3 linked regions of the Homo sapiens genome follow. The protein of the gene in region 1 interacts with the protein of each later gene in a biochemical or structural test. Each region holds a gene or a part of one and is shown on either strand. Other genes may lie near its edges.

Region 1 (11,600 bases):
GTATTTTGTAGATGTCATGGGTCAAGTCCTCAGTGCAAAGGGATGGCAAGAATCTTTGTATGGAAAGAGAGTTCTGGGTTATATTTTTTGGAATAACTTTTAAAGTTGTTACATGGAGGGAAATTTCTAAGCCAAATAATGGTTAGAAAGTGCTTTATTTGGGCCACACCCTGAGCTCTAGGATACCAAAGGAAATAACATTATGCCTTCTGTGGTCAGATGGGTTATATCTGGCAGGACTGATAACAGAGCCTGGTGCTTGGAACACCAGCTCATTGAAATCCCAGATGAAGTGTGGCCTTCTCTCCGCTGCTCATGAGTGGTGTTCTCACTAAAAAAGGGAGGGATGGGTGGATGGATGGTTGGATGGATGGATGGACAGGTGGATGCATGCATGCATGTGTGAATATTGCAAGAAAGAATTAACAGCCTCACTGGCTCAGTTTAAGAGGACCTGGTTTGCACAAGATTAAGTGTTGACCTTTGTTTTGGCATGGGATTAAAATAATTTTCAGATTATATTGGTGCTGGAGTTGACCTGAAAGTCTTGGTCCACTGGTGCCCTAGTGCTCCAGCCCAACTAAACTTCCTTCTTCAGCAATCACTGACTCTCTGCCTCCACATCCACATCATCTGATGTTCTTTCCCTGTTTTAATTCTTAGGCAGCCACCCTCTTTCTCACTTCCAGTGGGCACAAGAAAGCAAGAATACTTCCTTTCTACCTTAGAGGCTGAGCCAAGAGTAAGATCAGTCTTCCGACTCCTCTTGTTTTCTCTTTCATCAGGACTGCACTCTCTCTGCTCACTGTTTTGCTTCAAACCATATCGGTTTTTTATTTCCTTTTAGCTGTACTCTCCATCTAACCATAAGTTCTTTGTTCTGTTTGATGAACAAATGGCTCCTTAAACTAAGCCTGGATTATTTTCAAGTACCTGGACTTGCAATTACCTGCACCAAAGAGACAAAAGAGAACATGGGTAAGTGAAATGCCAAGGATGTTCTGGAATCTTCAGGATTCTTTGGGATTTTCTAATGTCTCCCGTTCTCAGAATGCTCTGACCTATTTTGACAGTTACAATGAAGAATCAGTGCTGCTCTTCTGACCATTCTGGGGCGAGTGGGGATTCACATCACTCTAGCCAGAGAGTACAAAATCACCAAAAGACGGTGACCCAGTTCTTGTTGGAGAGTCCTTCATATGCATTTGAATTTGCCCCCAATATTTTTTTATATCTCATGTTCTAGGGCTGGTTGTCTAGTATAATAACCACTATCCACATGTGGACATTTAAATATAAGTTTAAATTAATACAGTTTAAAATTTAGTTTCAGAGCTGCACTGTGCACATTCCAAGTACTCAAGAACCACAAGTGACTAGAGATTGGACACTACAGATATAGAACATTTCCATCATTAGCGGAAATTCTTATGGACAGTGCCCTTCTAAAGCATGGGTGTGGTGCAGCTTAGTGGGTGAGGTCATGGGCTCTGTGCTCAAAAGATGTGTCTCTCAGTGTGCATCACAGTTCAGCAGCCACGTGACTCAGGGCAACTACTTAACTTGCTCAGCCACAGTTGACTCAGTGGAGATAATAATACCTGAGACAGGGAGCTGTGACATGAAGTAATGGGTATTCAGTACATATTTATCATATTTGTTGTAGTGGTATAATAGTAAAAATAATTTTAGCATCCCTTTCCTCTCTTCCCTAGATGAAAAACACACTGAGCTCTTACTATATAATAAAGAACTTAGCTGGTCTTTGTCCCAAGTCCCTGAGTGGGAGCCTCTAAATCCTTAGAATTTCCCGAGTGACAGACATGCCTTTGTTATTCATCGTGGGCCCTGCTAGTTTATGCTAATGAGATAACTATGGACGGGGAAGGGGGGTTGGGGCTAGCCATGTCAGAAAGACCAACCATGAGATGAGAATCTTGGGGCTTTAAGCCATGTGATGTCAGCCCAACCTCCAGGGAGGCAAGGAGAAGCTGAAGATTGAGATCAGTCACAAAGCTAATGATTCCATCAATCATGCCTGCATAATGAAACCCCCATAAGAACTCTGGACACAGAAGCTCGGGTGACCTTCCCTGGTTAACAGCACTCTGTGTGCATTGTTACACATTCGTGTGCCAGGAGGGTGATGCATCCTGACTCCACTGGGAGAGGACATGGAAGTTCACATTTGGGACACCCTGCAACCTTGCCCTATGCATTTCTTCTTTTGGCCGGTCTTAATTTGTATTCTTTTTGGCTCTAATAAAACTGTAATCATAAATATAATGTTTTCCTGAGTTCTGTGAGTCATTCTACCAAACTAAGGGGGTAGTGGGAACCTCCAAATTTGTAGCCAGTTGGTCAGAAGTGCAGGACCTGGGAACCCCAGAGTTTGCTGTTGGTGTCTGAAGTCAGGACAGACCATGCCCTTTACTTGTGAAATTTGGCCTAACTCCAGGTAGGTCATGTCAGAATTCCATTGCAGATCTACATCTCTTTCCTGGGCCCTGGCCCCTGAAAAAGCCTGGTTCCATTTGGCCCGGCAGCTACAGGTTGAAAGAGGTCAAAAGCCTTCTCTTTTTGTTGTTACCCTTCAGCGTCACATCCACTGTTGGGTGCACACTCAGGTTCCTAGGGACCCATCTAATTTCCCCAGACATACCTGGGAGACTGGAAAACTGTTGAAAGAGGGGAAGGTGGTGGTGACTTTGCTTCAGTTTTTCAATGTGTCTTAACATACTCCAGCCCCAGGCTGGTGGGACTCAGAAACGAGGGACAACCAGGACTTCCAACCATGGCAGCTCCCTGTGTAATTGCTCCCGATCAGTTTCTAGCTTCTGTCCTGATGTGTGTGGTAAGAGTGGGGGTGGAAGTGGGGCAAGCAATGCAGTCCTTCTATATAAACCAAAATACCTTCAGGAGACTACACTTTGTTGAATTAAGTTTGACCTAAAGCTACCTTCATACATATTTTAGGTTTCACCTAAAGATTTCTTGTACATAGTGAACTGTCACCCAACTGGGTGTCTAAACAGACTGTAACGTGCTCTTGTAACAGGTCGCTGAGTCTCAGCCAATCCCAGGTGGTCAGCTGTTAAACTGGGTTCAAATAAGGCAAACGCTGAGCTGTTACCAATCCAGCTAACTCTGTGCCTCACTTCTGTTTTCTGTATATCACTTCCTTTTCTCAGTCCATAAATCTTATCCAACCGTAGGGCAGCCCTTGAATCACTGAATCTATTCTGGTTCTGAGGGCTGCCCCATTCATGAATCATCCTTTGTTCTATTAAATTTTGTTAATTTTAATTTGTCTAAATTTTTTCTTTTATCAGCTGGTTTTCATGTCCCTGCGCAGGCTCAGGTCCACTCCAAATCCCGGAGCCTGAAGATGACTTAAATTCTGATTCAAGTCCAGAATTTCCCCAACCTCCTGGACCCTGTGAATGATTTGGGAGTGAATAAAATGTTCTGATTTCTCCTTAGAGCAGAGCACTCCCTCCTGTGTCCCACTTACAGCTCACACACCCACCCCATGGATTGGTGTCTGAGAGCAGGGAGGAGCAAGGAATGGAGAAAAAAGAATGCAGAGAGGAAGGTGGTTATTATTCATGTTGGGAAGGGAAAATAAATCTTGGGGCCCCCAAATCACTAAGCTAAAGGGAAAAGTCAAGCTGGGAACTGTTTAGGGCCAACCTGCCTCTCATTCTATTCAAAGTCACCCCTCTGCTCACTGAGATAAATGCATAAATGGAGAGGCTAATCAGAAACTGAAAAGAATGCAACCATTTGTCTCTTATCTACCTAGGACCTGGAATCCCCCTCCCCGCTTCGAATCTTCCCGCCTTTGCTTCGAGCTGTCCCACATTTCCAGACCAAGCCAATGTTCATCTTGCATGTGTTGATTGATGTCTCATGTCTCCCTAGAATGTATAAAAACAAGCTGTGCTCTGATCACCTTGGGCACACGTCGTTAGAACCTCCTGAGGCCGTGTCACAGGCATGCATCCTCAACCTTGGCAAAATTAACTTTCTAAATTAACTGAGACCTGTCTCAGATTTTCGGGGTTCACAAGGTAAACCAAAAATATGATTCTAAGCCCCCCAACTCACTGATGGATGCCCCTTCTCGGCCAAGGTCATTCCAAAGTAAACCTAAAAAACTAGTTCAGGCCATTATGGGAAGATCACACATGACTCCTTCTAGCCTCTTCCTTTTAGAATTCAGGCTTAGCTGATCAGTATTAACACTAAAACAGAGATCTTAAGACTGAACAAACAGACTCTTTGTAGCAATAAGATACCAAATTCCAATCTGACTCTAGTATAGCATCGTATGACAGATAGCAGGCCCTGAAAGAAATTGAAGTATTTTACCCCAAAATATATTTCTTTGAAATATTTTGAAATGGCCCTGCAACACTGTCTCTTCTGAGGAAAATCTACATTCTATAGAGAATCCCTTCCTTTTGCAGGTCTTTTCCCTGATCCAGGAGAGATTTAACTAAGATTTAACTTCTATTCTCTCTGAAGCCTGCTACCCGGAAGCTTCTTCTGCACAAGGGCATTGGTCTTCACAACCCCTTATCTAAACCCAGACATATCTTACTATAAATTCCAGGTCCTTAGATAATATCTTAACTCTTTTAACCAACTGCCAATCAGAAAATCTTCAAATCTACCTATGACCTGGAAGCCCCCACTTTGAGCTGTCCCATCTTTCAGACCAAATTAATGTATATCCCCACATATATTGATTGATGTCTTATGTCTCCCTGAAACTTATAAAACTACACTGTAGCCTGACCACCTTGGGCACCTGTTCTCGGGACCTCCTGGGGCTGTCACAGGTCATGGTCCCCATATTTGGCTCAGAGTAAATCTTTTCAAATATTTTACAGAGTTTTACTCTTTTTCATTGACATTCATCAACTGGGCTCTTACTCCTGTGGGATTCATGCTGTTTTCCTGTGTAGCCTCCAGGGACAGTTCTAAGAAAAAGTAAAAGGCAGGGAGCAAGAAAGAACAGAGAGAAAAAAAAAGAGAGAGAAAGGAAGATAGAGATCAGCTCTGTAATCCCAGAGTTTTGGGAGGCCAAGGCAGGAGGATGGCTTGAAATCAGGAGTTCAAGACCAGCCTGGGCAACATAGCAAGACCCTTGTCTCTGCAAAAAATTTAAAAAATTAGCTGGGCATAGTGGTACACGCCTGTAGTACCAGCTACTCAGGAGGCTGAGGTGGGGGGATTGCTTGAGCCCAGGAATTTGAGGTTTCAGTGAGCTATGATTGCGCCACTGCACTCCAGTTTGGGCAACAGAGTGACCCTCTGTCTCTTAAAAGAAAATTCTGTTTCAGAGGTTTTTGTTTTTTTCTACAAATACTGCTAAATTAGGTTATGAACCCCACTCACTTATAGAGGGCAGAACTGAAATCCTCCTAGGTGAAGTCACTTTCCAAGACCACAAAGGGAGGTAGATGCAGAAGCTGGGAGAAAGCCTGACTGTCTCTGACTCACTCTGCAGCCTCTCACTACATCGTCGGTTACTCAGGCTCAGGCATCTGAGTCATCTGTGTGGATTCTACTTTCATAGCAGCCCCAGGGATCATTTCCTCCTTTCCTTCCCCACTGCCATGACCTGTGCCAGGGCTTCGCGACCTCTCACCTGGACTATTGGCAACAGCCTCTGATCTGGTTTTTAGCCAGCCACCTTCATGCTAATCTAACCCAATCATCGCTGAAAGATCAATCTAACCAACCACTGCTCTCACGGAAGTGTCCAGTGAGAAACTTTTAACGACTTCCTGCTGCTTAACTTATTAAGTGTTAAAAACTCTTTAGCACAGTATCCATGGCCAGCCAATGCTTGAGCGCGTGCCTGCACTCCAGCTCAAGCCACCGTGGCTCTGAGATCCCCTGCATGCCTGTGCATGCCCATGTTGCTGCTTCTGTGCCTTCTCTTGGAAAGCCCCAGCCATGCCCCACCTAACTACACGTCCATCCCTCTGAGATCCTCGGTGCAGCAGTTCAAACACTACCCCCACCCATGAAGCCCTTCTGATTCCTCTGACCCTGAAATGCTGTAGCTGTTGTGAAAGGAAAATAAATATTGGTATCCCAAAATCATTAAGCCAAAGGGAAAAGTCAAGCTGGGAACTGCGTCAGGCAAACCTGCCTCCCACGTTATTCCTAAATAAGATAGCTACAAAGATTTAAACGCTACATACCTCCCTTACAATTTGCACACTGGGAAATTCCTTATAGGCCCCAATATCTTTACCCTAAAACAGTTTTGTTGAATTTTACCCTGACAGTGTAAATTGACAGCTTATCTTCACAGGCATGGTACGAAGGACAGAACTCTAAGTCATCTCTCTGCTCACCTGAGACAAATGCATATCTGCTTTCTTCCTCTAATGTAAAAATGCAGACTCACTGAGCTAAAGGAAGACATAAATGACTATTATTCCTCTACCCACCGCCCAGCCCCAACATGTAAATTATGTATTTGGTGAAAGGCTGATCAAAGACTCAGAAGAATGCAACTGTTTGCCTCTTATCTACCCACAACTGAAATTTTTTTTCTCTTTCCCCAATATCCATTCTTTTCCCTTTAAATATTAAAGCCTTCGAAATCTTCTTTGGAGAAAGATGCAGGCCTGCCTCCTGGCACGCGCCCTTAACCTTGACAAAACAAACTTTCTCGATTGAGACCTGTCTCAGGTACTTTTTGGCTTGTACTCTTTATCACATTTTATTTTGTACTATGTTCTGTGTGTGCATGTCTCATCTCCACTCTTATACTGAGCTCCTTGAGGCCAATGACCTATGTCTTGTTCATCTTTCAATACCCAGAGCCTCACACAATGGAGACACACTACACATATCCAATGAATGTATTTTGAAGGAATGAATTCCTTCTAAAAGAAAAGACTCTGCTGCAATGTGCATGATTAGTCTAAGTGCTTTTACTTAGATAGCAAGGTCTTTTGCAGTAGAAACTTAATCTTTCCTAGAAAATATCCCACATATTGTACTCAGACCTCCCCTCCATAGCCCATGAATTGATAAACACAATTAACTGCCTAGGCTGGGTGAACCAAAGTAACTCAGTAAAAAAACTTTACCAGTTCCCGTCCTCCCTGTAGTTGCTAAATAAATATTGAAAGGACTAAGATAATTCTCTAAAGATCCCTGATATGCTTATGAATATATATAACTTATTATTAGTTAATAGAGCTTACTAGATTCTCAATAAGCTCTCCGTGCACACAGCACTAAGACCACACATAACTGACCTACACTTCACTGGTAATTTAATTCACACCAGGGATATGTTAACAAAATGTGTTTATTGCCCAAGGTTTTTAAAATGAAGGAGAAAGAAAGCCGAAATTTATCACATATAAACAGACTTGGATTTCTTTTTTATTTTTGATCTGATTTAAACATTTTTAAATACAATATGTATTGGTTAAACTGTTGCTTCACAAAATCCTGATGAATGTCAGAATCGATGTTTATGACTCAAGAGCAGACCAAGAATATCAGAAATGACCAGAGAAACTATGGTTTAACAAGTCACCTTGGAGGAAGGGGAAATGCAAGGGAGAATAGGTATTTTGGAGGCAGATGAAATGCAGATATGGAAGTAGGACTCCATTTATACTTCAGTTGTCAATGGCACTGGTAACTGTCCCCCAAGGGATGACAAAATAAAATAATAGATCTGCCACCTCCAGGTGCCTGCCAGTTACTACCTCATTACAGATTATTGTTGCAAACTATTATATAATTTAAGAATTTAAATAATCAGTAAAAGACTATCAAATTTTCTTTGTGTTTTTGGGTGTATGTAGGAGGTGGGGCAGTATAGGATGAAAGAGGGCCAAGGAAGAGGAAAGCAATGTGGAAGAGCAAACAGCATACTAGAGTTGTTTTATAATGTAACTTTTTTCTCAAATAATTAGATCATCCACTGGTTTTGAATTTTTATTTATGCATGTATTTATTTATTTATTAGGTGGATACCTTTATGGTGAAGGGATTTGAATTTAGCTTTTAAATTGGAATTTTTCAAAGACCACAACCCCAGCTGACAAAGATGAAATACTTAACATTAAGAAAGTCTTTTTGATGATTGCCTTTGTGAAGCCAGGATAACAATTTTCGAGACATGTTTTGTTCATTTTCACCTAAGAAGGTGCTATTAGGCTACTTTCCGTGACTCAATTCCTACACTCTCAAGACAGGGCTGGCATTAGTTACACAGACTCTGTGCTGCGTTCTGCCCCTTCCTGGAGAAGCCATCGCCAAGTTCTCAGTGAGTGCTCACAGAGGGCATGGTTCAGTGGCTAGGCATGCACATTTGCATTTGTTGTTGACAACTGTCAGCTTCGACCTCCTTCTCCTCACAACCCCGTCTAAATGGGGTTTGTAATCCTCCTTCCCACCCACTCTCTTCACTCCCTGGGGCAAGAATGTTGACTCCTGCTCTCCGTCACCTGTCAGGATCCATCCTCCTGTCACTGGCTTATATGGACACGTCAGCCCACCGTCACGTGACCGCAGGCTGCTAAAAACAGCTCCAGCACCCACTCCAAACCAGGGCCTGAAACAATGTCCTCCACCGAGAGAAACGTAAAGGACACTTGATCACACAATCCCTGGAATAATATCCAGGAAACACTTGCTGGAGCCACTCGCAGCACCCTTCCCTGGCAGCACACTTGGGGACAGCGAGGAGATGAGCGCATCTCTGAATTACAAATCTTTTTCCAAAGAGCAGCAGACCATGGATAACTTAGAGAAGCAACTCATCTGTCCCATCTGCTTAGAGATGTTCACGAAACCTGTGGTGATTCTCCCTTGTCAGCACAACCTGTGTAGGAAATGTGCCAGTGATATTTTCCAGGTAGGTTTGTTTGGAATTTGGTTGAGGGGAGGGGGTGGAAAAGATTCCCTCCTCTTGGAATCAAGTGCTTAACATTGAGGTGAAATCCTTTAAAAAACTTTATAAGGTTGCCGGGCGCTTTGGCTCACGCCTGTAGTCCCAGCACTTTGGGAGGCTGAGGCCAGTGGATCACCTGAGGTCAGGCCTTCGAGACCAGGCTGGCCAACATGGCAAAACCCCATCTCCACTAAAAATACAAAAAAAAAAAAATTAGCTGGGCATGGTGGCGGGCACCTATAATCTCAGGTACTTGGGAGGCTGAGGCAGGAGAATTGCTTGAACCCAGGAGGCGGACATTGCAGCGAGCGGAGATCGTGCCATTGCCCTCCGGCCTGGGCAACAGAGCAAGACTCTGTCTCAAAAAAAGAAAAACAAACAAACAAAAAAACTTTATAAAGTTGCATTTACTTTCAAGAAAAACACGTTTCTTTTAATGATTTGGTTTGTGTCCTCTTTACTCCCAAATCTAGTTTTATTTTAATACTAAGAATCATATTTTTTTTTAAGTCAAACCATTTAATGTGTTTCAAAACTATAAATGAGTAACTGCTGAAGACATGAGTGTGGAGTTTCTGGCTGGAACTTTTGGTTCTGAAAGTGGTGGACGGAAAAGCACCTTACGTGGACAATGGTATATTCGCAGATGACTGTGGATAAGGTCTGACCCTGTGTTTCAGGACCACTTGCTGAGAAAGCCCTGAGGGATGATCTTATGGCAAGCTTAAAGTAGAAGTTCATGTTGTTTGTAGTAGCAGAGAGTGAAAATAAGTCTCAGAGAAGCTGCTTGTGGCATTACCCAATTCCTTTTTTCTTACTTGGCAAGAACAGGCCTCTAACCCGTATTTGCCCACAAGAGGAGGTACCACCATGGCATCAGGGGGCCGATTCCGCTGCCCATCCTGTAGACATGAAGTGGTTTTGGATAGACATGGGGTATATGGACTTCAGAGGAACCTGCTGGTGGAAAATATCATTGACATCTACAAGCAGGAGTCCACCAGGTAACACTCTTCCACTCTTCCATGTGTCAAGCCCATCTGAAACTTGTTTTTGTTTGTTTGTTTTAATGGGTTGCTACGCTGAATGCTTGTTTATCAATCACAGACTGTTTTATGGAAAAATGGTTTTCCAAGTCAGTCCTTCCCAGTGAGACTGAGAGTTGCTCACAGCAGGAGAGAGGGGAGTTGGTGCCCATGCTTTTGTATCAATTTAAGAATGAAGTGACTCATTAACACCAATCCATTCCAGATGGTGATGCTGAAAGAGACATACTGCTGTCCCCCTCCACCTTAAAGCCTGGTATTACATCCATTTTACACATTTTGCACTTCACAGGCACTTTGTAGCTCCAGATCCCTACAAAGCAAAGAAAAAAAAATCTAGTAAATACTTAATAGAAAATTAATAGAAATGGCATCTTCCGAAGTAGCCCAGTTCCTAGTTCAGACAGTCTTGCCTTAAAATTGTTTGGATGATAATAAAAACAAAATCCTCTAACATAGGTTGTCACTGTATTTACTCTAAGGGAAGTCACAAAGCAAGGCAAAACCCTGGCCTTTAGGGACTTAAACTTCAGAGCCATGAGGAAAAAAAAGGGTGAAATTCAGGTTATGTTTCCCTATTCCTTATACTGTATTTACTGCATAGTCAGCATTCACTTGTTGATTGTGAATAACATCGTGATAGCATTATATATCTATCCATTCATTTTTAAAAAATAACAAAAAAGGCTTCTTATTCACCAAACCACATTGGCTATAGAATTCCTTTCCTAGACACAATGCTGCGGGAAGCTTATTCCTAGAAGGCACGGTGTGAAGAGCCCCTTTTCAATTGTGTGCAGGTCAGTCCAGTCCACAAAGCTTGATAGCAATATTGAGACCATCTAGAAATGGCCTCATTGTGATTCCATTAGGGGACACGTATTTATGGAACATCTGCAGAGCTCTAAGAGGCTTGTGCTCTTGGAAGGAAAGCTGTTCTATAAATCTAACATAATTATTATAATTATTATAGCTATTAATTTCCGCTAAAGATCCAAAACTAAATTAGACAGTACCAGGATCTAGATGGGTTTGGGGAAGAATTGCTGATGACATATTGCAGAGATTGCAGCTGGCTGTTTCCCTTGCTTCCAAAGTCTCTTGACAAGAACAAAAGTACTATTGCTGTTGCTGTTACTTTACAGATTTGATCTCATTGTATTTCACTACTTTAAAATACAAATACACACTTGTCTCTTAAAAACTTAACCAGCCAATTAAAAACCAATTAATTATGAGATTGATGCAAAAGTAATTGCGATTTTTGCAATTACTTTTCATGGCCAAAACAGCAATTACTTTGCCACCAACCTAATATTAAGAGAGTTTATATAACAAGAGTTTCAGTGCTAGTCCAGTGTCTTGCACAGAATAGTTGCTCCATAAATCCCAGCTGATTAAGCAATACCACAAATATTCTTACGTAACAAGTTTCAGAGCTAGTACAGTGCTTTGCACAGAATAGTTGCCCCATAAATCCCAGCTGATTAAGCAACACCACAAATATTCTTTCATGTTCTATTTATTGCAATAAATTTATGTTTTGTTACTTGTCACAGTGGGAACTTGAGACATGAAAAAATAGCAATACTTGTTATGAAATCCAGAGA
Region 2 (11,524 bases), on another chromosome or scaffold:
AAGTCAGAAATTGCATTTTAAAAATAATTTTCCTCTGCTTTAATAAATGGCTAAAAAGGTTAATGGATTTTCTATCTATGTTTGCAGTCACAGAAGCACTTATCTCTCATTCCAAGTAGATGTTCTATGTAATTGGGTGTGAAGTAATTCCAAAGTTGCATCAAAATCTTTTCAGAGCGTTACTATGACAATCAAACTTCCTTTTAAAAAATCATCTCAACGCAAACTCTCCATCATCCCACCGTCCATTGAGTGAAATTTAATCTCATGAAGTAAATTTGGCTTTTGAGAAAGTTGAGGGGTGGGAGGGGAACCATTATGCATTCACATTTTAACTGATTCTCCCACTCACACCCATTCTTCTTGAGGTTGTAATAGACAGGCCAGTTGTCCTTATCACAATCCCAGAATGTTGATTGTTAGAGGCTCTGCCTTCCTAATGTTCTGGGAACCAGTGTAGGGGGCCTAAACAAGAACCCATTATTTGGGGAAATAAGAATGTAATAGAAAGTCACTGAGATCCCTTCCTGGACACTTATCACTACCTTTTCTATGGGGACAGATGTCAGCCTAGGCAAGAGCTTGGGCAGGGATTCTCAGAAGGGGAAGAAAGAGGATGAGGCCTTATAAAAATCTCTGCGGTCTTAGAAGGTTTGAAGAGGCATAATCAAAATTACCACTACTTTTATTTCATCTTGACCCCAAGTTGATCTTCTTGAAATTTCTATCCATGTAACAGAGAGTGTGAAATTTTTATGTTTATCAAGTGGGAGAATGTCTTAAAGATAGTGGAAATATCCTGGGCTAGTGAAAGCTTTATGGACCGTTTCCTCTTTTAGAGGCATTGGAGAATCAACTTCACTGTCCGCACGTGATGCTGCAGTTATGAATGTTTATTTCTACCTTTTGATTCAGTGACTTTGAGACCTCAGTAAAACTTTAGGGCCCTAGAAATCATTTTGTTCTCAGCTCTCCTTTTATAACTTCAGGATTTGAGATGGTAAGAGGTGAGAGGACTTGCTCCAGTGAACACAGGGCAAAGCCAGGATTTAGAGGTAAGCCTCCTGATTCTTCATCCCATCCCCACCAGACCCACAAAACTACTGTCTCGCCTCACTCTTCTTGATTTGTGGCAGAAGAAGCATGTTATATTGTCTGTAGTTTTTGTTAAATACTTCAGTAAAACTGTGTGAATGCCGTGAGGGCAGAGTCGTGTGTCTCTTGAGAGCATAAGTATATCTCAGCTCTAGAAAAATGCCTGACACAAAGTAGAGCTAAATAAATATTAAATGAGTAGGCCAGGCACAGTGGCTCATGCCTGTGATCCCAGCACTTTGGGAGGTCAAGGCGGGAGGATCACTTGAGGCCAGGAGTTCAAGACCAGCCTGGCCAACATGGCAAAACCACATCTCTACCAAAAATACAAAAATTAGCTGGGCATGGTGGCATGCACCTGTAGTCCCAGCTGCTCAGGAGGCTGAGGCAAGAGAATTGCTTGAACCCGTGAGACAGAGGTTGCAGTGAGCCAAGATCGTGCCACCGTACTCCAGCCTGGACAACAGAGCAAGCCTCTGTCTCAAAACAATAAAATAAAATAAAATAAAATAAAATAAAATAAAATAAAATAAAAAATAAATGAGTAAATTGTATGTGTGTGTTTCCCATGGTCTTAGCATAGGCAAGAGTCTTCAACAATCAAAATTCTGAGACCAGAATAACAATAGCTTGACTGTCCACTACAACTTGGAGAAAATACACGTGTATTTAGATACATATTCATTTAATTCTACACCCTCGAGCAGTATTCTCAATGCTGGGAGGAAATTAGAATCAACTGGAAAACTTTAAAAAATACCAATTCCTTGGATCTTTGAGCAGAGATTTGGATTTCATGTGCCTGAGCTGAAGCCTGGGCATCAGCATTTTTTTAGAAGCTTCACAGAGGATTCTAAGATGCACCCAGCTTAGAGAATCACTGCTTGAAGAAATGTTAGTTCACACCTGAGAAGCCCTGACTCTGCGATTACAACTGTTGGGGTTAGTTAGCATTTGAAAGACACTAATGAGCTGCCCCCACTCCAGTGGAGGTAATCCCAAGTACTTTACCTATCTTTACCTTTGATAGTATTGACAGATTAATGGTTAATTAGCATGAGAAATGTTACCAATTATTTCTCATTGAAAGGAGAATTTGAAATATGTGGTTTGGTTAGAAAAGAATATGAGCCCTGCTGGGTCTCAGGTAAATATTTATTTAGCCCCACTATGTGTCAGGCACTTTTCTATGCAGTTGGAGTCCTAGGCTTATAGTGAGTGCTAGGACTCCATCCTATCTTGTGTTAGGCCATATGTGGAGGAGTCTGTAATCACCTTGAGTGGACTAGAAAATTAGCTGAAATATGCTGCCAGAATGTGGTTGTGGTTTCATTTGCTTCAAGTGAAACTTTTTCTTTTATTTTTTTTTAAATAAAAAAACATAGAGCCAGGATCTCGCTATGTTGTCTAGGCTGGTCTCGAACTCCTAGGGTCAAGTGATCCTCCTGCCTTGGCCTCGCAAAGTGCTGAGGTTACAGGCATGAGCCACCATGCCTAGTCAAGCGAATCTTTTGTGCTGGACACTGTCCAAGGGCCTAAATGGACAAAGGGCTGGGCTTCATGAGTTTACTGAATAGTGCATGTGGCCCTTTGTGCCTGTTGGCTGGTGTGAGTTCATATGTGTGGCAGAATTTGCACTGAGATACCTTATTTACTGTAACAAGGCACCTGCTGTAAGGTGTGGAGGTGAGACCTACAGCCTTCACCTACCTCTAACGTCAGGAGGCCACCGATATCCGTAAAAAGTAACCTACTGTGGGCAGCCCAACTGTGTTAGGGCAGTTTGTGCCCTTTCTATCCAGAGTCCTGGGCAGAAGGACTTTAGTCTTGATTCTGCCTTTCGAGAGGCAAGGAAGGCAGGTGCCACAATCCTGCTGAAAATGTTTCCAGTACTTTTCTGCTTTTCAAATACAGGTTATCCCATTCCTGGCAGGGGAGGGGAAACAACATTAAACCTTATTTGCTTCACTTTTATGACCTTCCTTTGGCATTTTCAAACACGTAACTGAGCCATGGCTTGCTGGTCAGGCTAAGTCAGCCACTTCTCTGGGCCAAGGAAGGTGCGTAACAGCTGGGACTGGGAAGGCTATTAAAAGGGATGGCAAAATGAGCAATTGTAAGTACAACAGTGGAACAAGGAGGTTTCCAAGTCAGAATCTGGCTACAGTCCTTGGAGCACTTCCTTTTAGTATCAAGTTGGGTGTTCTAAGGACAAGGAGTGTTAATAACAATAAAATTTTATGTGCTATAAAATGCCTTTTTAGAAAATAAAAATGCCCATTTTAAAAAAACAGCCTACATGTCCACAAATGAGAAAGTGGTTAAATAAGAAATGGTAGGTCCGTGCATGGAAATTCATGCAGTTGTTTCTAATAGCAAGATAGATTTGTTTGTGCAGATAGGAGACAATCTGTAAGACACGGTTACTGAGCGAAAAATAATCAAGTATCAAATCGACAGTAAGATCTGAACTAAATAACATTCTCTGTGCTATTTTTAACAATAATGTGTCTATTATATAGTTAAAATATAAGAATGAAAAGTTGGAGTAGAAGTAGAACGTCTGGAACTTCATATTTTATACAGAAAGATAAAACTGCCCTTGGACTTGGAGCTGAGCTATGGCACATGGATCTGGGTGGGGTCCAAGCGCCTCTTTTAATCCCTAGGTGACAGCAGTAATTGCTTTAGGTGCTACTTCTCTGCTTCTCACTTTCTCCAGCTATAACCATGGTCCTAATTCTAGTCACATGTCATTTCACCCATGGAAATGCATAAATCCTGAGGGGAGTGGGAAAAGGCTCATGGGGTGACACTGGAGAAGCTCAGGGATGCTTCCTTTACTCTTTCTGGTTGGAGATGGGTGATGCCAAGTTGCTTTATGATTGTAGAACCAACTAGGACCTTTATTGTTTTAATTCATCTTAGTAAGGATAGATTATGTCCAGATTGAGGCTATGATAAAGCCAAATACACAAATATAAGAATTTACACCACTGGGTGAACTTTTATGGGAAGGATGCTTCTGAAAAACAAATGACAGAAAACTCTCCGCCAGGGGAATTTTTTTCTCAATTTTGATGAATAAGAACGATTTGAAAATACAATGGTTGTTGTTTTTATCTTTTTAGAGAGCTAAAGGTGCCTAGAATCTCTTTTCAAAAAGCAGATTCTCTCATGTTTTTTTTCTTTATTTGTTGTCATATTCTTTTTACATCTTCTGACCACTTATCCTCAAGTTGTACCTCTCATGTTTTATAATGACAAGCTGGATCAACATGGGAAAAGGTTGAACTGGCAGTGATTTCACCAGCCCTGACATCCTTGCATCCACCAGCGTGCTCCTTTAAGTTCAGCCCATTCCATCAACTCATCTTCAAGTGTCATCCTCTGCAAAGTTTTCTTCAAGACTTCCTGGAGCCTCTCTATAGAATCAGCTAGGTTTCAAGGGATAATTAAATGCCTGGAGAAAGAAAAGGGCTTGGTAAGCCTCCCTGCCCACTTTCACTTGCATTCTTTGAGGTGATTGAAACAGTAAGGAGCCATTTAATCAGTTTTGGTTGCATCCTGAGTGGGTCTAGGTGAGACTTGCCCTAGGAAATCTTTTGGGCTCAATGATTGTCTGCTTCTGTTGGATGGAATCAGGACTCTTCAACCTAGCATTCACCAACTAGCTGTGCATCTGCAGCAAGTTACTTAATGTTTCTTTGCCTCAGCATCCTCTCTGTAAAATGAGAGCATTAGTCTTGCTCCAACTTCGAGGGCATGGACAGCTCTGGGATTTCATATCCAAGACCCTTAAACATCCCACAGTCCTTCCCCCAAACACTTCTCCTCCTAATACCTCCCTCAGTTTGGGTCAGGCCTGGAACAAAAAGGCATACGAAATGGTAGAAAAAGTGTCCATGACTACTTCTGACTTAGATGAAGAGACCAATGAAAATAGTAATGACTCTGTTTGCTTCAGCAGGACATATACTAAAATAGGAGCTATACAAAGAAGATTAGCATGGACTCTGTGCAAGAATGACACACAAATTTGTGAAACATTCCATATATTAAAAATAAATAAATAATAAAGAGAAAAGGAAAAAATTAAAAAGAAAATAGTGATAGCTGTGTCCATCTCAAAGAAAAGCCCAGGAGATTTCCTTTAATTAACCCCCTTTTAAGATAGAATATTAGGAGACCGGAACATATGATACAGGAGGTACTGGGAGGGTCCCTCTTTGTCAATGTTTTGTCTTGGGGTGGGGAGTCGATGTCTTCTCAAAGTTTCAGAAACACCATCCACTGACTGAGCATTCAAGGGGGAAGAGGAGAATGGCAGCCACATTTGTTGATTGGGTGAGTTTGGGGAGAAATAGACACACAAAGGTCAAACATAACTTCCTAATTAACACTTCCCTCCATTCACAATTCCCTTCTCCCATTCTTCTCTCCTTTCTTTTACTGAAAAAAACCCAGTTTTTCCTGAAACTATAAAAAGACCCCAGTATTTTTACATAATTTACACCTCAAAGATTAGAAACCAGAAATAGAGACCTTTTTCAACCCTTCCGGAAGCAAAGTGCATTATCCCTCCAGCCACGTGTCTCAAATCTTGATGCATCAGAATCATCTGGGTGCTTTGAAATTCAAGATGATTCCTACGAGTTACCATAAATCAACTCAGAATTCCCTGGAGTGGGGCCCAGGGATCTGTATTTCTGACAAGCTCCCACAGGTGATTCCTTTCCCCACAGCATTTGAGAACTTCAGCTCAATGACCTAATCAGAGTCCTGCCATTGCTAATAACTGGTCTCATTTTTTTCATATATATATATAGTATTTTTGGTAGAGATGGGATTTTGCCATGTTGCCCAGGCTAGTATTGAACTCCTAAGCTAAGCAATCTTCCTGTCTCTGCCTCCCAAAATGTTGGGATTACAGGTGTAAGCCACTGCACCCGGCTGATAGCTGGTTTCATTTACTCTATTTCTTGACCACTCTGATCCATTTTGAAGTAAAAATGCTCCAATTATTATGCTGTTTTAGAACACGGTAAGCATGTCATGTGCTAATTATGGCCAGTGACATCATAAAAGAAAAGTGCATTACTGAATGCTTTCAATTTCTTATAATGATGGTAAGGTGGCATGTCATGGGGCCTATTTAGCCCCAGACATCACTCCAAAGAATTCCAAACAGATATAGACAAGTGCCTTTAGGGCCCAGATCCCTTCCCCTCAGGCTGTTTACCCAGGGAATAGGATGTCCTGGGACAAGTTTCCCCTAAGTGAAGTGTTGATAAGTCTGCTTATCAGAAAGATATTACTGGGGGTGTGATATGTAGGGCATCTACATTTTCTTGATAGGTAGTCATATGAAAGCTGACAAAGAAAAAAAGGGCAGTGATGTGGTGCAATGTCAACAGACAGCTGTCCCCTGACTCTTGACAAATAGGATGACTTGCATTGCTGAGCGATGTGATCACCACCAAAGGAATGGCCCTCTCACATTTCTTCCTGATTCACATATTCAGCAGGGTTAGCTTGTCCTCCCCTCCCTCTTCAGCTTCCCAGACACTGAGTCTGGAATGAAAATTCACCTGCCTCTGAGTTGGCTCCTAATGGGGGTGGGAGTGTTACTTCGGTTCCCAGGTTGGAAGATTATCTCACCCGGCCCCAGCTATATAAGCTGACCGGTGTGGAGGGGCCCAGCAGGGCCAACTCCAGGGATTCCTTCCACGACAGAAAAACATACAAGACTCCTTCAGCCAACATGATGGTACTGAAAGTAGAGGAACTGGTATGTAAGATGCATTAATTTTATAAAATGAAAACTGGTTCATCTTGGTTTTTATTTGAAAATTGAAATGCCCTTTGCTTTCAGGTGTAATGCAAGGGAACTCTGAAAATGTCATATATGGAAAAAGGTTGATGTGATGAAACAAGTGAAATTGGAAAAAAAAAATGGAGCTACCAGTAATGAATTCTCTGCATATTTCCTATTTAATATCTTCTCCTTTGGTTTTATTACTACAGTGTGGAATCACGTGTAGTTATCAAAATGTCTTAGGGAAGAAGTGTTATTGAAAGAATGTAAGCCCGGAAACTTTACAATAAGGCGAAACTCATCAAAAGTACCTAAAGTTGAGTTTTAATTAAGCAGAGAAGGTTTTTGATTTTCCTAAAAGAAATGTGATTAAGCAGATTAAAAGTAGATTTAATCTGTCAACCTAACCCAAGCTTTGATTTAACCAAGAGAGTAGGACAAGCATCTGAAGGTAATTCTGGGACAATTGTAGCAGTGTGCATCGCAGCTTGAGATCTGAGAGTGCACTGCTCAAAGGTGGCTGTTCCCAGGGGAGAAGGACCAAGAGCCTCCTGCGGCATTGTCTGTGAAGAATGACCCAGGACGAGGCTGCTGCTTCTGACGCTGCCATCTTCTTCCCTCATAGGTCACTGGAAAGAAGAATGGCAATGGGGAGGCAGGGGAATTCCTTCCTGAGGATTTCAGAGATGGAGAGTATGAAGCTGCTGTTACTTTAGAGAAGCAGGAGGATCTGAAGACACTTCTAGCCCACCCTGTGACCCTGGGGGAGCAACAGTGGAAAAGCGAGAAACAACGAGAGGCAGAGGTGAGAGCCATCTGTGGAATCCACTAGTAGGATGTTGGGGCTGGGGTAGGGAATGGAAATGTCAGGGAAGGAGAAGAGAGAAACAAACCCAATCATTAAGATGTCTCTTTACCAGATTCTAACCCGTAAAGAGGCAACTTGTATGGAACAGGTTTTGGGAAATAACTCTTTGACAAGACTATGACCTCTGAATTCTGAATCAATGAATAAATGTGCTGTGACCATGTTTTGATTGAAAGATACACATGTCCAGTGAATTCCTGATGTTACACACCATGTAGTTAATCCCAAGCAACGGAGATCTCTTTTTCTCAATAACATGGTCTGTGGTCCATAGATCATTGTTTAACTGTCTGCTATCTGTGTTGACACAATCTGTGTTTCTGGGTGAATTTTCCTTAATTACTAACACAGATAAAATTTGCTTTAGTTAGCTGTGGTCCCTGGACAGTCTGTTTTAGAAGGCTCTGCTTAGTGAAAGAGAATGACATTGATATTTCAGAGCTTAACATTTATTGTTAGATTCTTTTTATCATGCTCAAAAATTAAACCAAGTTTTGAGCATAATTTTAAAAATCCTTTAAAAATCTAAGACTTGCTTATGGCATTAATTACAAAGTCATCACTTAGAGACCAGATCGTGTCCTCAATTGGTCAAGGGCTGATTCTACAAGCAACAGAAGTAAAGATGATGGCAATTAGCTGAAAATTAGACTCCCAGATAAATATCTGAATAAGAAATCCCTAAAATGAAGTCAAAGATTTATATAATTTTTAAAAAATGTTTTTGCTCAAACTGTTCACATGTTTATCTCAGACCTTGCAGATTTAGTTTAGACACAACCAGAATGCTTGTCAGTAGAACTCACCATATTTTTGAAATACGAATTTCTTTTTTAGCTCAAAAAGAAAAAACTAGAACAAAGATCAAAGCTTGAAAATTTAGAAGACCTTGAAATAATCATTCAACTGAAGAAAAGGAAAAAATACAGGAAAACTAAAGTTCCAGTTGTAAAGGAACCAGAACCTGAAATCATTGTAAGGGCTTTTTTTTTGGTTTCCAGTAATACATGTCCAGTGTTGTGCTACAGGGGAGCAAATATCTGTGGAGGGTTTGATTGAATGCTGGCAAGCTCACGGTAACTCTCATGCTATATATATATATATATATATATATTTATTTATTTTGGCTTTAGACGGAACCTGTGGATGTGCCTACGTTTCTGAAGGCTGCTCTGGAGAATAAACTGCCAGTAGTAGAAAAATTCTTGTCAGACAAGAACAATCCAGATGTTTGTGATGAGGTAAGACTCATGCAAAGCACTGCAAAATCCAGCTCATTAATTTTATGTTTCTTATGCTTTACTCCAGTCTTGCTAATATAGTGCCAAAGTCCTTCCACCTGAAACAGTTTCCCCAGCTGTTGCTGTGTATGCCAGGAGCCTAATAGGAGAGTTCAGTGGTCCAAAAAATAAATAGATATTAGATCAGTGATACGGATTGCATTGTTTTTTGCACTCATATACATCTGGCTGATTTTTCAGTTTTTCTTTAACTTCTTAGATTCTTGGGATAAGACTTTTAATGTGGGCCAAAAAGTCACCTTTAGAGATATATTATTAGCATCATCTTTGATTAAAACCAAGCACGTCAACACTAGATAAGAAATCTGGAGATTGGAGTTCAGGGGCCAGTTGTACCACTACTTGGCTATTTGGTTTTGAGCAGCTAATTTGCATCCTCTGGGCTGTGGTTTCCTTATCTGTAAACATGGGGCATTGGAGTGAAATAACGCCTAAAGTTGTTCCAGCTCTAATAGTTCATTAGCCCATTCAAATAAAGCCAATTTATCAGAAATCACTAATCTTTTTGTATTCTTTCCCCCATGAAGTGAAATTGGGGACCGCTTCTGAAGTTGAACTAAAAACATGTCTCCCATTCTCCTAAAAATGAATGGAAACTTTTTGATAGTCTAGCAACAGTCCCAGATGCAAGAAAGCTGTCTGATCTGCATGGTAATGCTACATGAACAAGGAAGGTGCAAGATAGAAGAAACGGAGATGTCAGCATTTAGATAGTTTTGAGCCTTTAAGTTCACACTCCTCAACGTAGGCCTTTGAGCCCTTGGAAATGTATATTGGAGGAAGCTCAAATATTAGTTGCAGGATAATTGTTCTGATTCTGCAATTTTAGTTAACTTTGACATTTCTATTCATAAAGAAGCACTTGAGTTTCTATCAGTTAGGTCATCAGAATCTCCAGCTTCATAGCTCTTAAAAGGGTTTACACACATTTTTATATTTATTGCTATCTCTGTTTAAAATCTCTGTTCTGATAGTATAAACGGACAGCTCTTCATAGAGCATGCTTGGAAGGACATTTGGCAATTGTGGAGAAGTTAATGGAAGCTGGAGCCCAGATCGAATTCCGTGATATGGTAAATATATTTCTTTGCTTGGGAATGAGCCAAAAGAAGTAGACTATATGAAGCTCCGGAAAACCTCCAATGCAAAACCGAGCTGATTGGATTGAAAATTGATCTGAGAGAACTAGGCAAAAGCTCATTTCTCCAAATAAAGGAAAGTTGGGAGATGAGAGTAGGTCATGTGAAAATATTTTCCATACATACTGAAAATAGAGGAATATTTCAGGGAAAAGAAGGAAGTGAAAGCTGTTAAACTGAATTCAATATCCTCATCAGCGAGTTAGTCATTCATTTTCGACACTTGCCTTTCAACAGCCTTGTCCCTCCATTGTTCACAGGGCAGCCTGCTTATGGTTGGCTGCCAGCAACATATACGAATTCTCTAGCTGCACACTTTATATGATAGATGCCAATTGCTACCAATGAGATTTGGGGCTAGACTGCATATGAAATGAATTGCATCTATGGAAAGTAGCTGCTATTCAGACCTCAATAATTCAATCACTGTGATTTCTACGAAGACCAGTATGCAGCATAATTTATGAACTGAAGATTGAGCTGGGAAAATTCTTTATGTATTTAAATGCAGCTCATTTTGACTTTATAGCAAAGCGGCAACGGGATATCAAAGAAATCCAAGGGACTTGGCCAAAATTGAATCCAAAACATAAACACATTGAAAAAAAAATCAAGAAACAAAATATGAAGTTTGCATGGAAACTAAAAATCATGAGTGTGGGATTAAGGCCAGGGGCATACCAACCACATAGATCAGTGAGGAGAGGGTCTCCTAGGGGTAACTATACACGTTACAACTGTAGACACAAGTGACTACAGTTGAGGTACAGAGGCTGTGCTAGCAAAAATGAGCAGAAAACCCACAGAAGTAGAGAAAGAGCGACAGGGACCCTAGATGAGGTGTCAGATCCAGATTAAAATATTTTGGAAGGGACTACTTTTATTCTGCCAAAATTTTTAAATACATGTGTTTAGAACTTTTGTGTACATTTGACAAAAGAAGTTAGAAGTTCCAGGCAGAGGGGAGTTTGACTGTGTATTCTGCCTCTTATTAGTTGTGTTTCCTTGGGCTAGAAACTTGAACTTTTTGGAACCTGGTTTTTCTTATCTGCAAAATGTGCATAGCAACACCTACCTCAAAATGTTGCTGGAAGAATCAAGGTGTCTAAAGTGTAGCACCATGTTGGCATGAGAAATGTCTCAATAAGTGGCCATTCTTATTCTTTTAAAACATTATTAGATTTATTAAGAGCCTCCTAATAAGACACACATATGCACACACACACACACACACATGTAATTTAGCTAACACATTTGGTAAGAACCTTCGACTCCAGTTAGAATTGTCAATCTAGATGGGGAC
Region 3 (8,840 bases), on another chromosome or scaffold:
ATACTGAGTGCCTGAATTTGTCCCCTACCCCCACCCTCTCCCAATCCATCTATATATTCCTGGAGAAATTTATCAGTTGAAGCAAAATCTTAACGAATTTTTTGGTAGCCATAACTTTTGTTTCTTCTAGAAGAGGAATTGTCAGTCTGAAAACCCGACAGCGTTGCTGTTTTGTGAGATAGGCAGCAGGGGGCAGGCTAAGTGATTGTCATAGCTGTTTCATGGACCAGAAGCTGGAAGATTTGTACAGCTGTGTCACCATTAAAGAAAGACATGCTTACTCACAGCCACAGCTGTTGTGAATGAACTGTCAATGTAAAACGACAAAAACTAGGAAGCTTGGAGGCACCAATGCTTTGTTCTTAGATTTCCTGTGTTTTCTTGACTGCTTGCATCTGTGAGAAATTAAAATTATTTTTAGTACAGTGGGCTCCATTCTCCTACCTTTGTTTTCAAAACTTCCTTTACAGGTTTCCTGTAAAGGAAGAGTATGTATGACAGAGTAGATCTCTGTCATACACAATCTCATTGTCTAACTGCGGCAACATATATAGTACATGCCTTTTTTTTTTTTTTTGAGATGGAGTTTTGCTCTTGTCTCCCAGGCTGGAGTGCAGTGGCGCGATCTCGGCTCACTGCAACCTCCGCCTCCTGGGTTCAAGCGACTCTGCTGCCTCAGCCTCCCTTGTAGCTGGGATTACAGGCACCCACCACCATCCCTGGCTAATTTTTTGTATTTTCAGTAGAGACAGGGTTTCACCATGTTGGACAGGCTGGTCTTGAACTCCTGACCTCAGGTGATCCACTCGCCTCGGCCTCCCAAAGTGCTGTGATTACAGGCATGAGACACCATGCCCCGCCAGTACATGCCTTTTAATTCCATAGAAATAACTTTAGAACCTTGAGGCACTGTGTTGTTAGTACTGCAGCTCCTTCAAGTAATGAGTTTTCTGTTTAAAGTAAAATCTTGTCTATTGATATATGGTTTAAATGAAGGCCTTTTAAAAATACGTCTTAGCATGGTTGATTATTGTATTGGTTCTAGCTAATTCACTATAGAATTCAAGCAGAGAGATTCTGCCACGCTTTTTTATATACAATGTGTGTACTGTACAGTTTACTTTTTAGTTACCACATCTTTATTTGTATTACTTGCAAATATAATTTTGTGTTATTTGTTTTTTTAGGATGTTGAGGAAGTATATGCCGGAGACATCTGTGCATTGTTTGGCATTGACTGTGCTAGTGGAGACACATTCACAGACAAAGCCAACAGCGGCCTTTCTATGGTAAGCCATTTAATTTCAAAGCTACTTATCACTAGAATTTTAAAAGTCTGTGTTTTTATGTAGTGCATTTAATACTTCAGAAAAACAACCACAGAAGTTTTCGTTGAGTACCACAGTCATCAAGTTAGTTGTGGCTCTTTGAATGTTGGTTATAGCTCTTTGAATGTCAATTAGACAAGTGCTCTGTAAGCTAACTTACCTGGTTTTTCATAGTAAAAAGGAAAACTTGGAGGATCCACAATCCTCCCAAGTTTAGCAAGGAGGAAATATCTCCACCAGATGGTACCTGGACAGTGTGGCTCTGATTCCTCCACCCTGAGACCTGCTTCCACACTTGGGGTGCATTTCTAATTGTTACCACTAACATCAAGCTAGTTTCAGTGGAGTGCTACTTCCTTATTAACTCAGTAGCCAGAAAGTATACTGTTCCCTCAATCCCTTTTGAGACCAGACTGTAACATTTAGACTAGACTTGGGATAACAGAACATAACCAGGCTCAGAAGGCAATAGGCAATATGCAACTACAGAGTCTGACTTATATAAATAGCCTGCCCTTTGGAACTCAGAAGTCCCTTTTTATCATTGAGGGATTCTGAGGGAAGAGCATGCACAGGTAGCTCCTGCCTTTGAATTCCCTTCACTCACTCACCTTTTTTGCCTCTGTAGGAGAGCAAACTCTCTTACATTATGACCATCTGTTTATGAGAGTGATCTCTTTTATGAATTCAGTAAAGAAAGAGTATGATGAGTACATAGGGTGACAGGTAATTTGCAGTGGGTCATTTACATAAGTACTGACCCAACTCTAACAGAATAGCACTGTAATACTTCCTGCTATCTAATGATGAATTCATGATTTTATAGTTTAGTTTTTTTATCTGTAGTATCCTCTAATGTGTATATTATTACCTGTTGATTTAAGACACTACAAAAAAAACATAAATCTATACAATTTTTGTTTGAGATCTAGATAAAAGGAATGTTTTCTAAGTATTATTGATAAGGCCTTCTCTAAGTACTGGTCATTAGCAACATGAAGTGATTGGTAGTTGTGGGAAGTGCTTACCAAGGCATTGAAACAAACAGGCCTTGGTTAGAGTCTCACCTTTGCCCTATACTACCTACTGGCCCTTAGCCAATTTGTTTTACCTTATTTCCAAGCCTTTAGTGACTGCATTCGTAAAATGGGGATAATACCTGCTTCTCAGAGTTGTAATTCATTAAATGAGGTGTCATGGGTATGAAGAATTTGGTGCCCTTTCTCTGTTTGCCTTATCAGTAATTGTATTATATTTTGATTAAATAAAATAACTTAGAAGATTGCAACAGCCACCAAGCAATAAGAATTTCACATCTCAGTATTTGGATTAATTGTAGTGATTATGTTAAACAGGGCAATAAATACATTCATTAATTTTATTTTGGGAAGGAGGAACCTATATAAGTAGATAGCTTTATTTATTTATTAATATGTTGTATTAATGTACTTATTTAATGCAAAACAGATCAAGATATATGTTGTCTAGCCTAAAGACATAGGCTACTATTTATCCTTTGTTCTGTTGTAAAGTGGCACATTAAAATTAATCTATCCCTGACCCATATGGGTCTGTTTTTTAATTCTTCTGTTTTCTTTTAAAAAATATTTTAGGAGTCAATTCATGTTCCTGATCCTGTCATTTCAATAGCAATGAAGCCTTCTAACAAGGTAGGAGTTTGATTTAAAGCTCAGTATATCACAATTAAAACTTGAGCTCTTTTTCATCTATCTCTACAATGCACTTGATATCTTGTAATAACCAGCAGTCTTATGGTCTCTATTTCCTCTGTTGGTATTGAGATCTTCTTTTTAAATTTACCAGTCTGTTTCTAATGATAACTCCTCAGTATATTTGAAGAAATGGATGGTATTAAAATATTCACCTGACTGTACTTTATAACTCTTTACTATATTGTTGGCTTCAGAGTGTTAAGTGTAACTTCCCGGATTCAGATCATACACAATTGGAAAAGGGGAATCGGGCACTTCTCCTAAGTTGTAGTAAAACCCCACTATAAAGTACTTTAGAATGTTGAACTGATTAATTGACTCATGGGTTATAAAATAGCTCTAGGTTTTCTGGTAGTTATGAGGTAAATGTCTGAGTATTGCATGGAAAGCCTGTAAATAAGACTTTTTTCCACTTTGAAATATTTTTTAAGATAATTTTATACTTTATAGTTTTATAATTGGGTTTGATGTAATTTAGCTTTTAATAAATCCAAAATTGCATGATTAGGTTTTGCATTTTCATTCTTTGCCATGGGAATTAGTCTGATCTCAAACCATAACTTTTTAGTTCTTAAGTTGCCTTGGCATTCATAACAATCATGTTAATGTGGTATATTGAAATTCACTTATTCATACATTGAGTGAACTTTTTATGATTTGTTATACAGAACTTATTACAAAACATACTCTGATGAATTGTCACGTGTGATAATATCACTAACAGCTGCTACTACTACATCTATTTTGAGGAACCTTGGGATTTTCCAGACCTTTTCTCAATATAGAAAAGAGAAAATTGAGGTGGCAGGAAATATTAAATTTCTCCATTTTCTCAGGAATTTGAGGAAAGGTGAACCTTACATCTTAACCTCAGTAGGATGCCATAGTTTATTCCAAGTACATTGTTAAAATTGCTTGCTTTTCTCTTTGGAAGTATGCAAGGTTAGAACTTATGCTTATGTATTATGCTTCTTCATTCCTAAATTCAGAGTTTATTTAAGGCATTTAACTGTTGATAATTTACAATAAGGAGGGAAATCAATGCTTCAATATCCAGAAGGTTTTTTGTTGTTTTGGGGTTGTGTATGCATTAAAAAGTTTAAAGATGGCTGCTTGCTGGAGTAAGTTAATTTAAATCGAATAATGAAGTCTCCATGAGTCTCAATAGTGGGGGCAGGCATGATGTTTCTAATTTGAGAGTATCTGGCTTGTGCAGAAAAAAGGCAAAAGACCTAGAAAGACTAAACTGGGATTCAGTCCCAGCTTTGCCATGCAATAGCTGTGTGGCCTTGAACAAATCACTTAACCTCTCTGTACCTCATTTCCTCACCTGTAAAATGTGGATAATTCTGCCTTGCAGCATTGTGGTTGGGATTTGAGAAAACATAGGCAAAACACATACCACAGCTCCAGGTATGTGGTAAATGATAGCTGTTAATATTGGTTGTACTGGGCATGTTAGTTTTCTATTGCTGACTTAAGAAGTTACCACAAACGTAGTGGCTTAAAACAACACAAATATATACTTTTATAGTTCTGTGGATCATAGGCTGATAGCTGTTCTCAAAGGGCTAAATTAATCAAGATATTGGTAATGTTGTTTTCCTTTCTGGAGGCTCTATGGGAGAATTTCTCTCCTTCTTACTCAGGTTATTGGCAGTATTCAATTCCTTGTGGTTGTAGGATGGGGGTTCCCCATTTCTTTGAAGACTGTTACCTGAGGGCTGTTCCTAGCTTCTAGAGGCTACCCACCTTCCTTGGCTTGTGGCCCCCTGCCTCCATCTTCAGTGCCGTCAACAGCTGGTTAAGTCCCTTTCTTGCTTCAGATATCTCCTGCCACTTCTTCCTTCATGGAATCCCTCTGACCCCCCCTTCTAGCTTCCTCCTCCATGTTTGAAAGGCACACATGATTATGTTGTATCCACCTAGATAATTGATAACAATCTCCCCATCTCCAGGTCTGTAACCTTAGTTACATTTGCAAAGTCCCCTTTACTATGTAAGGCAGCGTATTGTCAGATTTGGGAGGATTAGGGTATCTTTGGAGGGCCATTAATCTGCTTACCACGCGGGATTACATGGCATCTAAGGAGAAAAAGGGTACATCATACCACATCCAAGCAGATTGTTTTGAAAGGGACAAGTCTCATCGTGGTATTTGCCTATTTGTTGGTCTTAAGTATCCTGCTTGGATCTACAGTAGTGTCTTGGTAAACATGCTGATTCCTTTGATTATGTATAGGATTTCTAAAATGTAACACAGATTCCAATTTCTGCTTTATGGGCAATTTTCACAAAAGGACAGTGTGTCAATGTAAGAGGACAGGGCATAGAGTTAAGTCTTGGACTCTTGTTTTCTATCTTGGTGTGGAAAGAAAATTCTGTTCAGTGAGCTATTCCCTGCTGTCTTGGCTGTGTGGTATCCAAGCTCACATTGTTTTTAAAAATGGTGTGGAGTAGAACTAGATATGTATCATTTTTATTTCTTAACTGCTGATGTATTTTATTTCATTCAGTAAAGTTTTTTCTAAAATCCCATTGCTTATCATGCTCAGTAAAACATATAGTGACTTTCTTCTTCTTTTAAAGAACGATCTGGAAAAATTTTCAAAAGGTATTGGCAGGTTTACAAGAGAAGATCCCACATTTAAAGTATACTTTGACACTGAGAACAAAGAGACAGTTATATCTGGAATGGGAGAATTACACCTGGAAATCTATGCTCAGGTAATGAATAATAAGGAAGTTAAGTTGAAATCAATTTATTACTGTCTGTTTCATTAAAAGTCAATAATTCTCAATCTAATGTCTGTAACTAACTCTGGTTCTTCATGCGTCACTCTGGTTTGTATCCAGATGTGGTCTACTGCTTCCTCTACTATGTGTTACAAAATAATTATTTTCGATCTCTAAATCTTTTTATTTGTAAAACGTTCTGGACTCCTAGAATCAAGGCTCAGGGGATTTGCAACAAGAATATCTGTCCATCCCCAGGTCATGGGTAACTGGGTCAAGTAAATCCTGGTCCAAGCCTTAGGGAGACAACCTGCGGTTGTACCAACTTTTCAGGCCATTTCTTCTCAAGTCATTACTTGAAGATCATTATAATATAGATAAAAGGAAGGGAAGATGGGGCCTATACCTTCCCAGGAAAGGTCTTGTATGTATTGATATATAAGTAAAAACCAAAGATATGTGATTAGAAATTTTGGTGAGATCTTATCTTTGAAGTTGAGATAGAAAATCCTGACAACAGATTTATATATTATTCCAGTGAATATGTAATAATATTCAACAATGGTGACGTTTTAGTGGTTAGATTAATTGGAGGTAAATATAAATTAATCAATGTAACTTAGAATTCATTTATATAAAATCTGTAAAAGCAGTTTGTATTAAGTATCACATACCTAATCCTTATAAGATACTAAAATGATTTAAGATTTGTTTATCTATTATATTTAAGTGAATGCTACTAAGATATATAAGATGCTTAGGAGGTTTTCTTTCGGTTTATTTTTTTAAATTTAAATAATATTTTCCCCACTCTTTTTAGAGGCTGGAAAGAGAGTATGGCTGTCCTTGTATCACAGGAAAGCCAAAAGTTGCCTTTCGAGAGACCATTACTGCCCCTGTCCCGTAAGTATGCAACGTAATTAAACATTATGAGGCTGAAATTGAAGCTTTTTATTTTGGATATACATACCACTATTACTGTTTTAAAGACATTTTTATGTAGTGATACTTTGTATTATGGACTCTATAAAGTTCTATACTGTAATCAAGACATTTATATAAAGTGACACTTTGGGATTATTTGGCCTCATAAGCTAGATGCCAGTGAAATTGGCATACACATCAATAGACATGTTTACACTTCCAGTGTTAGGGTTTTTGTTTATTCCAGTTGTACTTCCTTTGGCAGACGGCTATTATGTTTTACTTTAGTGCCGTATTGTGGATGCCAGAGAACTTGCATTTGCCAGGGAATAATCTCCTGCAAGTGAAGAAAATTAATGCCATGATAAAATTCAGAAAACATTTAGGAAAACGTAGTTGGGTTTATGTTTTGTTAGAGATAAAACAGTCTTCACAAAGAATAGTACTTTTGTTAAATTGCTGCAATTATAATATACTTAAATCTGGTGCCTATCTGGATTTACATGAATTCTGATTTAGAGTCAAAATTAATAAAGCATACTGTGGCTATACAAGGAGTCTCAGTTTTCAGAATGGCATCAAATAAAGGTAAATTATACTTTACCTGAGATGCTATATTATGAAGTAGAATGGTGTAGTCTAATTCAATAAAGTCATCATTTCTTTGCTATGACAAAAAATAAAAACGTGTTGTTTAAAACTTAATATCTTTGGCAAAAATTACATTTAATTTTGAAAATCATCTTTGATTAGATGAATATAATATTTCCATTTAGGTAAAAATAAAAATTGAATGTCATAATTTCAATTTAATGTGACAAAATCTATTCTCTTACACTAAATAAAGTGTTCTTTCAAGATGCATTTTAAAATCATGATCTTATATTTGTTCCCCAAGAAATGTTTACCTGTTTTTAGTTTCCAAGTTGTGGTGGCTACTTAAGAGAATTAGCAAGTGTAGCTTGTTATTTAAGAATGCTCTGTGTTTCCATTGTACAGAAAAGCATAATTTATGGGATAAGCTATAGCAATGGGTGTTTACATTGAAAGAATCCAATTTTATAACAGAAATTCTCTTTTTGAAAACTGAAAATAAGGCCGAGCACAGTGGCTCACACCTATAATCCGAGCACTTTGCGGGGCTGAGGTAGGCAACTTGCCTGAGCCTAGGAGTTCAAGACCAGTCTGGGCAACACAGTGAAACCATGTCTCTATGAGAATAAACAAAAAATTAGCCAGGCATGCCTGTGTGTGCCTGTACTCCCAGCCACCTGGGAGGCTGAGGTGGGAGGACCGCCTGAGCCTGGGAGATTGAGGCTGCAGCGAGCCATGATCACACTAATGCACTCCAGCCTGGGCAACAGAGTGAAACCCTGTCTCAAAAACAGGCAAACAAACAAAAAAACCAGAACACCTGAGAATAGTAAAATGTAGTGAGTGTAGTTGTGTGATTGTGTAATTAAAGCTTTTTTCTGTACTGTACAGTAGAGGGAAAAAACAGATAGTTTCAGTATGGCATGACTATAGTAATTTGAACACAAAACTTAGATTGCTAAGGGAAATAATCTGTATTAAGCTGAGCACAAAAGCTAAATGTTGGATTATAACTCAAGACTTCACTCTTCTGAAAGCACAGCTTTGCTTGTGACTGCCATAAAAAGTGGCCCTGAGGATCTCTATAGAGCAGATTAAAGGTGAGGAGAGTCATTACAATTGTCCCTTAGTATCCATGGAGGATTGGTTCCAAGATTCCCCTCAGATACCAAAATGCACGGATGCCCAAGTCTCTGACATAAAACAGTGTAGTATTTGCGTATAACCTATGCATACCTTCTCATATACTTTAAATCATCTCTAGATTACTTATAATACCAAATACAATCTAAATGTTATATAAATAGTTGTTATATTACTTAGGGAATCATGACGAGAAAAAAATCTGTGCATGTTCAGTACAGATGCTACCATCCATTTTTTTCCCCCAAATATTTTTGATTCTCGGTTGTTTGTATCCATAGATGCAGAACCCATGGAGAGGCCTGACTGTATATTGTACACCTGGGATTCTGTCTTGCTGCTACTAATAAAACTCTCTCAACCTTTTTGTTCTAGAAGAGGG

The links.
Region 2: the proteins of TRIM55 (region 1) and ANKRD1 form a complex in vitro, tested with the Homo sapiens proteins (one study listed by BioGRID).
Region 3: the proteins of TRIM55 (region 1) and GFM1 form a complex in vitro, tested with the Homo sapiens proteins (one study listed by BioGRID).

Annotation. Positions count from the first base shown.
Region 1 is NC_000008.11:66,118,529-66,130,128, forward strand, and holds the start of TRIM55 (tripartite motif-containing protein 55), read left to right. Parts: upstream 1-8,600; 5' UTR 8,601-8,740; coding exon 8,741-8,908; intron 8,909-9,770; exon of another isoform or gene 9,771-9,775; coding exon 9,776-9,948; intron 9,949-11,600. UniProt on the Homo sapiens protein: E3 ubiquitin ligase that plays an important role in regulating cardiac development and contractility, muscle growth, metabolism, and fiber-type differentiation.
Region 2 is NC_000010.11:90,916,363-90,927,886, reverse strand, and holds the start of ANKRD1 (ankyrin repeat domain-containing protein 1), read left to right. Parts: upstream 1-6,799; 5' UTR 6,800-6,859; coding exon 6,860-6,886; intron 6,887-7,538; coding exon 7,539-7,718; intron 7,719-8,618; coding exon 8,619-8,756; intron 8,757-8,914; coding exon 8,915-9,022; intron 9,023-10,056; coding exon 10,057-10,155; intron 10,156-11,524. UniProt on the Homo sapiens protein: May play an important role in endothelial cell activation. May act as a nuclear transcription factor that negatively regulates the expression of cardiac genes. Induction seems to be correlated with apoptotic cell death in hepatoma cells.
Region 3 is NC_000003.12:158,659,687-158,668,526, forward strand, and holds part of GFM1 (elongation factor G, mitochondrial), read left to right. Parts: intron 1-1,187; coding exon 1,188-1,289; intron 1,290-2,941; coding exon 2,942-2,998; intron 2,999-5,650; coding exon 5,651-5,788; intron 5,789-6,617; coding exon 6,618-6,700; intron 6,701-6,727; exon of another isoform or gene 6,728-6,959; coding exon of another isoform or gene 6,960-7,058; intron 7,059-7,325; coding exon of another isoform or gene 7,326-7,388; intron 7,389-8,840. Other genes in the region: LXN (latexin), read right to left, coding at 6,960-7,058, 7,326-7,388. UniProt on the Homo sapiens protein: Mitochondrial GTPase that catalyzes the GTP-dependent ribosomal translocation step during translation elongation.